2 separate regions of the Homo sapiens genome follow, and region 2 is linked to region 1. Evidence: fine-mapped expression QTL. A gene starts in region 1. The other region holds a variant in brackets. All regions are shown on one strand. Distances are between the middles of the regions. Region 1 holds the start of C5AR1 (complement C5a receptor 1). Region 2 has its middle 20 kb from the start of MEIS3.

Region 1 (4,389 bases):
ATTACCGCCTGATCTGTCAGATCAGGGGCGGAATTACATTCTCATAAGAGCGTGAACCCAGGCCGGGCGCAGTGGCTCAAGCCTGTAATCCCAGCATTTTGGGAGGCTGAGGCGGGTGGATCACGAGGTCAGGAGTTCGAGATCAGCCTGGCCAAGATGGTGAAACCACGTCTCTACTAAAAATACAAAAATTAGCCGGGTGCAGTGGTAGGCACCTGTAGTCCCAGCTACTCGGGAGGCTGAGGCAGGAGAATCGCTTGAACCTGGGAGGCGGAGGTTGCAGTGTGCCGAGATCGTGCCACTGCACTCTAGCCTGGGTGAGAGAGTGAGACTCCATCTCAAAAAAAAAAAAAAAAAAAAAAAGAGCATGAACCCTGTTGTGAACAGCGCATGTGAGGGATCTGGGTTGCAAGCTCCTTATGAGAATCTAATGCCTGATGATCTGTCACTGTATCCCATCACCCCCAGATAGGACCATCTCGTTACAGGAAAACAAGCTCAGGGATTCCACTGATTCTACATTATGTTGAATTGTATAATTATTTCATTATATATTACAATGTAACAATAATAGATGGAGATGGTTGTGGCTTGTGTAGTTGGGGGACAGGGTAGCTCCATTTTCTATTGCCAACTTTATAACCCTAGAAGGATGATTTTTTTCTTTTCTTTTCTTTTTCTTTTCTTTTTTTTTTTTTTGAGATTGAGTCTTGGTGTTGTCAGCCTGGGCTGGAGTGCAATGGTGCAATCTCTGCTCACTGCAACCTCCGCCTCCTGGGTTCCAGCAATTCTCCTGCCTCAGCCTTCTGAGTAGCTGAGATTACAGGCACCCACCACCACGCCTGGCTAATTTTTGTATTTTTAGTAGAGATGGGGTTTCACCATATTGGCCAGGCTGGTGACGATGGTTTTTTTTTTTTGAGACAGAGTCTTGCTTTGTTGCCCAGGCTGGAGTGCAGTGGCGCAATCTTGGCTCACTGCAACCTCTGCCTCCCAGGTTTAAGCAATTCTCCTGCCTCAGCTTCCCAAGTAGCTGGGATTACAGGCACCTGCCACCACACCTGGGTAATTTTTGTATTTTTAGTAGAGACAGGGTTTCACCATGTTGGCCAGACTCGTCTTGAACTCCTGACCTCAAGTGATTCATTTGCCTCAGCCTCCCAAAGTGCTGGGATTATAGGTGTGAGCCATTGCACCTGGCCCTAGAAGGAAGATTTAACAGTAAAATATACTTAAATGCTGGGCTACCTCCGCAGACTAGCTCAGCCTCTTTGGGTCTCAAATCAGCCTGGCCGGGAGGCTGAGTGGAGGTTACAGTCTCTGCTTTCTTGAATCCCAAGGGAGGGGTTTAAGCCAACTGCATTCCTGAGCTTTTGCCCAGAAGGCTGGCGTCTTAGGAGGAAAGAGATAGATGGCTCCAGGCCGGGCGCAGTGGCTCACACTTGTAATTCTAGCACTTTGGGAGGTTGAGGTGGGTGATTGCCTGAGCTCAGGAGTTTGAGTCCAGCCTGGCCAACATGGCGAAACCCCGTCTTTACTAAAAATACAAAAAATTAGCCGGGGGTGGTGACACACACGTGTAATCCCAGCTACTCGGGAGGCTGAGGCAGGAGAAGTGCTTGAACCCAGGAGGCAGAGGTTACAGAGAGCCGAGATTGCACCACTCCACTGCAGCCTGGGCGACACAGCAAGACTCTATCAAAAAAAAAAAAAAAAAAATGAGAGAGAAGAGATGGCCCCAAATAGGGAAACCAAGGCCAGGAGAGGGGCCGAGCCTGCACAGGAGCTTCCTCGGTTTTCCGAGCGCCGGCCCCCCTTCTCTGCCTGGGAGGAGGTGGTTAGAGTCCCCTGGGTGTGTGCCCCGCAGAGGGAGCTCTGGCCTCAGTGCCCAGTGTGCAGACCAATGAGAGCCCCAGAGAGAAAGACGGTCATTTCCTCCCTGCATCTTCCCTTGGGGCTTTAAAAACCACAGCCCTTGGGCAGGAGGGACCTTCGATCCTCGGGGAGCCCAGGAGACCAGAACATGGTGAGTCTCGAAGGGGAATGGGAGCAGGAAACTTTGTCCTGGGTCCCTCCCATCTTTGCTCCAGTGGGTCCTTCTCTCTCCCCAACTCTCGCCGTCAACTCTGTCTGTCTCTCCCTTTCCTTCTCTCTCCCTGTCTTCCACCTCCCACCTTCCCTCTCTCCTGCATCCCAGGCTCTCACACTCCAGGGCTGGGATGTGGCCATGGGAATAAGATTGTCAAGATTGTGGGAGCAACAGCAACCTCGTGGGGCTGGGGCCCGAGAAGATTCCCCAGGGGAGGGGACCCTTGAGTTGGGTCTAGTAAGGTGACTAAGAATTCCACAAGCAGCCGAGCGCAGTGGGTCACACCTGTGATCCCAGCACATTGGGGATTGTGCCAAGGCGGGAGGATTGCTTGAGGCCAGGAGTTCAAGACCAGCCTGGCCAACATAGTGAGACCCTGTCTGTATTTTTTTTTTTATTTAAAGAATTCCACAAGTGAAGAAATCTAGAACAGGCCTTCCAGGCAGTGGGAATGGCAGAGAAAATGTTGGGAGGCTGGAAAGAACCAGTTTGGAGGAATGGTCAAGTTACTCAGATGCTCTTGCAGATAGATGTTCTTTTCTTTTTCGACTTGGGGTCTTGCACTGTTGCCCAGGCTGGAGTGCAGTGGCACCATCATAGCTCACTGCAGTCTTGAACTCTTGGGCTCAAGTGATCCTCCCTCTTTAGCCTCCTGAGTATCTGGGACCACAGGCATGCACCACTATGTCCGGCTAATTTTTAAAATTTTTATTCTTGTAGAGATGGGTTCTTGCTATGTTGTCAGGGCTGGTCTCAAATTCCTGGCCTCAAGCCATCCTCCCACCTTGGTCTCCCAAAGCTCTGGGATTACTGGCATGAGGCCATTATGCCTGGTCGTTTGAGATGTTCTGCATGACAGAGATGGGGAAACTGAGGCCCAGGCAGGAGCAGAGATGGATGGGGACCCTCCATGGTTGGTGGCAGAAGCAGGTTATGCCATGGATTCTGTGAGTGTCAGAAGGAATGCACCCCAGGCTAAATGAGGGTCCCTGTCATCCCTGCGTCTGGAGGCCTGGGCACTGAGCCAGCAGAGCTGCGATTCAGCACCTGCTGTAACACAGGCATTGCCTTGCTTCATCTGTGTCAAAGAGGAAACGGAAGATGGTTTGGATGGACCAGGGAGGGGTCTGATGTTGCTTCATTCCTGCATTCCACCCTTGAGATCCGACTTGGGCAAACGGGACTCTCTGATTCTTCTTCTTCTTTTTTTTTTTCTTTCCAAAACATTTTCCAAAGTACCAAATGATACTTGGTAAAAACTCATTCTCGGCCAGGCGCGGTGGCTCATGCGTGTAATCCCAGCACTTTGGGAGACTGAGGCGGGCGGATCACAAGGTCAGGAGATTGAGACCATCCTGGCCAACATGGTGAAACTCCGTCTCTACCAAAACTACAAAAATTAGCTGGGCATATAAGCGGGCGCCTGTAGTCCCAGCACTTGAGAGGCTGAGGCACGACAATCGCTTGAACCCATGAGGCAGAGGTTGCAGTGAGCCGAGATTGCTCTACTGCACTCCAGCCTGGCAACAGGGCCATCTCAAAAAACAAACATAGAAAAAAAAAAACTCATTCTCCCTGCCTACCCCAGAGCCTCTGACTCCTTTTCTTTCCTTTTATTTTGAGACAGAGTTTCACTCTTGTCGCCCAGGCTGGAGTGCAATGGCACGATCTTGGCTCACCACAACCTCTGCCTCGCGGCTTCAAGCAATTCTCCTGCCTCAGCCTCCCGACTAGGTGGGATTACAGGCATGCGCCACCACGCCTGGCTAATTTTTTGTCTTTTTAGTAGAGACGGAGTTTCACCATGTTGGCCAGGCTGGTCTTGAACTCCTGACCTCACGTGATCCACCCACATTGGTCTCCCAAAGTGCTGGGATTACAGGTATGAGCCACCCTACCTGGCCCTCTGACTCCTTTTCATTGCCTCCTACCCTACCTGGGGCAACCATGGGATGCCAGTTTGTGGTGGATCCTTCCAGAAACAGTTTACAGATGCCTGAGAGCACAGATGCTTAGGGAACAAAGTAAGGACTAGTGTGATGCGGGGAACCCCAAAACCGAGCTCAGCTTCTGTCTCTACTATGAAATAGTTGCGGAGATCTGTCCTCTCCGTGCTTCTGTCTCCTTATCTTTTTGTTTTTTGAGACAGTGTCTTGCTCTGTTGCCCAGGCTAGAGTGCAGTGGTGTGATCTCAGCTCACTGTAACCTCCACCTCCTGGGTTCAAGTGATTCTCCTGCCTCAGCCTCCCAGGTAGCTGGGACTACAGGTGCCTGCCACCATGCCTGGCTAATTTTTGTAT
Region 2 (4,389 bases), 89 kb after region 1:
CCATGACTGTATCTCTCTGATCCACCTGATATTCACCCCATTTCCCCATATTTCCTTCTTTCCTGTTCCTCACTCTGATCACGCTTGATTTACTGATGGCAGTTCCACCAGGCCTAATCGCCACACACCAGCAAAGGCAGGCTATGCTATAGTACAAGCCACTAGCCCGCCTCTTAGAACCTCTCATTTTCTTTCCATCGTGGAAATCTGTCCTCAAGGAAATCACTTCTCAGTGTTCCATCTGCTGTTCTACTACTCCTCAGGGATTATTCAGGCCCCCTCCCTTCCCTACACATCAAGCTCAGGGATTTGCCCCCACCCAGGACTGGCAAATTAGCTTTACTCAACATGCCCCGAGTCAGGAAACCAAAATACCTCTTAGTCTAGGCAGACACTTTCACTGGATAGGTACAGGCCTTTTCTACAAGGTCTGAGAAGGCCACCGCAGTCATTTCTTCCCTTCTGTCAGACATAATTCCTCAGTTTAGCCTTCCCACCTCTATACAGTCTGATAACAGACCAGCCTTTATTAGTCAAATCAGCCAAGCAGTTTTTCAGGCTCTTAGTATTCAGTGAAACCTTTATATCCCTTACGGTCCTCCGTCTTCAGGAAAAGTAGAACAGACTAAAGGTCTTTTAAAAACACACCTCACCAAGCTCAGCCGCCAACTTAAAAAGGACTGGACAATACTTTTACCTCTTTCGCTTCTCAGAATGCTGCAGGGTACAGCCTATTTGAGCTCCTGTATGGACAATCCTTTTTATTAGGCCCCAGTCTCATTCCAGACACCGGACCAACTTAGACTGTGCCCCCAAAAAACTTGTCATCCCTACTATCTTCTGTCTAGTCATACTCCTATTCTCCGTTCTCAACTACTCATACGTGCCCTGCTCTTGTTCACACTGCCGGTTTACACTGTTTCTCCAAGCCATCACAGCTGATATCTCCTCGTGCTATCCCCAAACTGCCACTCTTAACTCCTGAAGTAAACAAATAATCTTTGCTGGCAGGACTATGCTGAATCTCCTTAGGCACTCTCTAATCAGATGTCCTGAGTCGTCCCAATTCTTAGACATTTTATACCTGTTTTTCTCCTTCTCTTATTCCATTTAGTTTTTCAATTCATACAAAACTGTACCCAGGCCATCACCAATAATTCTAAATGACAAATGTTTCTTCTAACAACCCCACAATATCACCCCTTACCACAAAATCTTCCTTCAGCTTAATCTCTCCCACTCTAGGTTCCCACGCCGCCCCTAATCCCGCTTGAAGCAGCCCCGAGAAATCGCCCATTCTCTCTCCATACCACCCCCCAAAAAAATTTTCGCCGCCCCAACACTTCAACACTATTTTGTTTTATTTTTCTTATTAATATAAGAAGGCATGAATGTCAGGCCTCTGAGCCCAAGCCAAGCCATCGCATCCCCTGTGACTTGCACGTATACGCCCAGGTGGCCTGAAGTAACTGAAGAATCACAAAACAAGTGAATATGCCCTACCCGGCCTTAACTGATGACATTCCACCACAAAAGAAGTGAAAATAGCCTGTTCCTGCCTTAACTGATGTCACTGTCTTGTGAAATTCCTTCTCCTGGCTCATCCTGGCTCAAAAGCTCCCCCACTGAGTACCTTGTGACCCCCCACTCCTGCCCACCAGAGAACAACCCCCCTTTTTCCTTTACCTACCCAAATCCTGTAAAAC[A/G]GCCCCGCCCTTATCTCCCTTCACTGACTCTCTTTTTGGACTCAGCCCTCCTGCCCCCAGGTGAAATAAACAGCTTTATTGCTCACACAAAGCCTGTTTGGTGGTCTCTTCACACGGACGCGCATGAAAAGTCTCATCGTCACAGTCAGGAACCTACACAGAGACACACAACCTATACCAAGGCACGTGTGACGGACACCGCCACTCAGCGACAGACACACACACCACATTCAGCAACAGGACACGGGCGGTGCCTCCAGCCACACCGACATCCCTCAACCACTGCCCTCGACCACCACATTCCAAGTCCACAGGCCCAGAGGACACACAGGGGTCAGACACACACCAACTGCAGCCCCCGAGCCCCGCCTGCCTATCCCCTGGGTCCTCACCCCACGACCCAGGATGCCCCTGAACCAGGGGCCCCTCCTGCTCTGAGATGCCAACCTACCATACACGCAGGTCCAGTGGCTGCTTCCTCCTCTCAGGAAGTGGGGGAGATATTTTTAGTTACAATTAACCTCCCACCCAATTTCCCTTCTCCCCAGGCACATCCAATTGGTTTAATTAGAGATGATTAAGTTAATGAGAGGCATTTCCAGATTCTGGGAAAAGGGGGAGGAGGGGAAGAGGAGAGCTGTCCCCTCCCCAACTTCCCAGTGTACCAGCCGCTGGGACCCCTTCCCAGCACCAGGCAGGGGATACACTAAGCAACTGCCTCCCCTCTCAGCCGACCTCAAAGTCTTGGCCTGGCCCTGCCCCTCCCCCATATTCCTTCCCCCACCTGCCATCAAGGGAGGGTGATTGTTTGAAGTCCTTCCTGCTGTCCACCCATCACCCATCCCACCTGAGTCCCGGGGAGTTTTGGGAGAGAGAAACTCTCATCATAGTCACGAAAACAATATCAGGCCAGGTGCGGTAGCTCACGCCAGTATTCCCAGCATCTTGGGAGGCCGAGGCGGCTGGACGGCTTGAACCCAGGAGTTCAAGACCAGCCTGGGAACACCATGAAAAGCCATCTCTACCAACAAATATAAATAATTAGCCAGGCATGGTGGTTTGTGCCTGTAGTCTCGGCTGCTGAGGAGGCTAAGGAAGGAGGATTGCTGGAGTGTTGGAGTTTGAGGCTGCAATGAGCTGTGATTACAGAGGGAGACCCTATCTCAAAAACAAAAGCAATTTAAAAAATTAAAAATCAGGCCAGGCACGGTGGCTCACATCTGTAATCCCAGCACTTTGGGAGGCCGAGGCAGGTGGATCACTTGAGGTCAGGAGTTCGAGACCAGCCTGGCCAACACAGCAAAACCCCGTCTCCACTAAAAATTACAAAAATTAGCCAGGCCTGGTGGTGCATGCCTGTAGTCCAAGCTACTTGGGAGGCTGAGGCAGCAGAATTGCTTGAACCTGGAAGGAGGAGGTTGTGGTGAGCTGAAATCACACCCCTGCATTCCAGCCTGGGCGACAGAGTGAGACTCTTGTCTCAAAAAAATTAAATAAATAAATAAATAAAAATTAGAATTTCAGAGAATTCTATTTTAAGAAAAAGAGGCTGGGGCCGGGCGTGGCAGCTCACGCCTGTAATCCCAGCACTTTGGGAGGCCGAGGCGGCGGATCACCTGAGGTCAGGAGTTCGAGACTAGCCTGGCCAACATGGCGAAACCCCATCTCTACAAAAGTACAAAAATTAGCCGGGCATGATGGTGGGTGTCTGTAATTCCAGCTACTCGGGAGGCTGATGTGGAAGAATCACTTGAACCTGGGAGGTGGAGGTTGCAATGAGCTGAGATCACACCATTGCACTCCAGCCTGGGTGAGAGAGACAGTGAGACTCCATCTCAAAAAAAAAAAAAGAAAAGAGAGGCTGGAAGCACAGTGGTTAGTGTCCAGGCCCTGGAGCCAGGCTGCCTGGGTTCAAATGGAGCCCAGCCTCACAATCTCCAGCTGTGTGACCTTGGATGAGCCACTTCACCTCTCTGGTCCTGCTTCCTCACCTGGGAAATGGGGACCGTGATGGCACCCACCTCCTGGGGCTGCCATAGGGTTTAACAGATTCCCAGGTATACGGCTCCTAGAACAGAGCCTGGGACACAGCACTTACTGAAGGGCTCCATAAGGTCATAAAAGTGGCAGCCCATGCTCTCATCCTGTGCCTGTTCTGCTTTTTGTGACACTCATCCCTTTCTTCCTTTTTTGAGATGGAGTCTCGCTCTGTCACCCAGGCTGGAGTGCAGTGGCATGATCTCAGCTCACTGCAACCTCCACCTTTTGGGTTCAAGGGATTCTCCTGCTTCAGTTTGCCAAGTAGCTGGGACTACAGGCGCCCGCCACCATGCCCGGCTAATTTTTATATTTCAGTAGAGATGGGGTTTCACCATGTTGCCCAGGCTGTGTCCTCAAGTGATTTGCCTCCCAAAATGCTGGGATCACAGGCGTGAGCCACCACTCCTGGCCTATCCTAAGATTTTGTTCATTCACTCGTCTGCTCAGCGGATATTTTCTTTCTTTTTTTCGGGGGGCAGAGGGGGACGGAATCTCGCTCTGTTGTCCAGGCTGGAGTGCAGTGGTATGATCTCAGCTCACTGCAACCTCTACCACCTCCTGGGTTCAAGTGATTCTCCTGCCTCAGCCTGCTGAGTAGCTGGGATTACAGGCATGTGCCACCACACCTGGCTAATTTTTTGTA

The links. PIP is the estimated chance that this variant, and not a neighbour inherited with it, causes the effect. A credible set is the group of variants that fine-mapping cannot tell apart.
Region 2: its variant is the best candidate, but not a certain one, in a credible set for the expression of C5AR1 in whole blood (TOPMed, PIP 0.82).

The regions. Positions count from the first base shown.
Region 1 is chr19:47,307,873-47,312,261 of GRCh38, forward strand. It overlaps C5AR1 (complement C5a receptor 1), which reads left to right and starts at 1,989. Exons shown (of 2, transcript NM_001736.4): 1 at 1,989-2,026. The coding sequence starts at 2,024.
Region 2 is chr19:47,396,924-47,401,312 of GRCh38, forward strand. No RefSeq gene overlaps it. Among named protein-coding and RNA genes, the nearest start is that of MEIS3, 20 kb to the right of the region's middle. RefSeq lists an enhancer at 1,235-1,902. The variant A/G (reference allele first, on the strand shown) is at 1,707.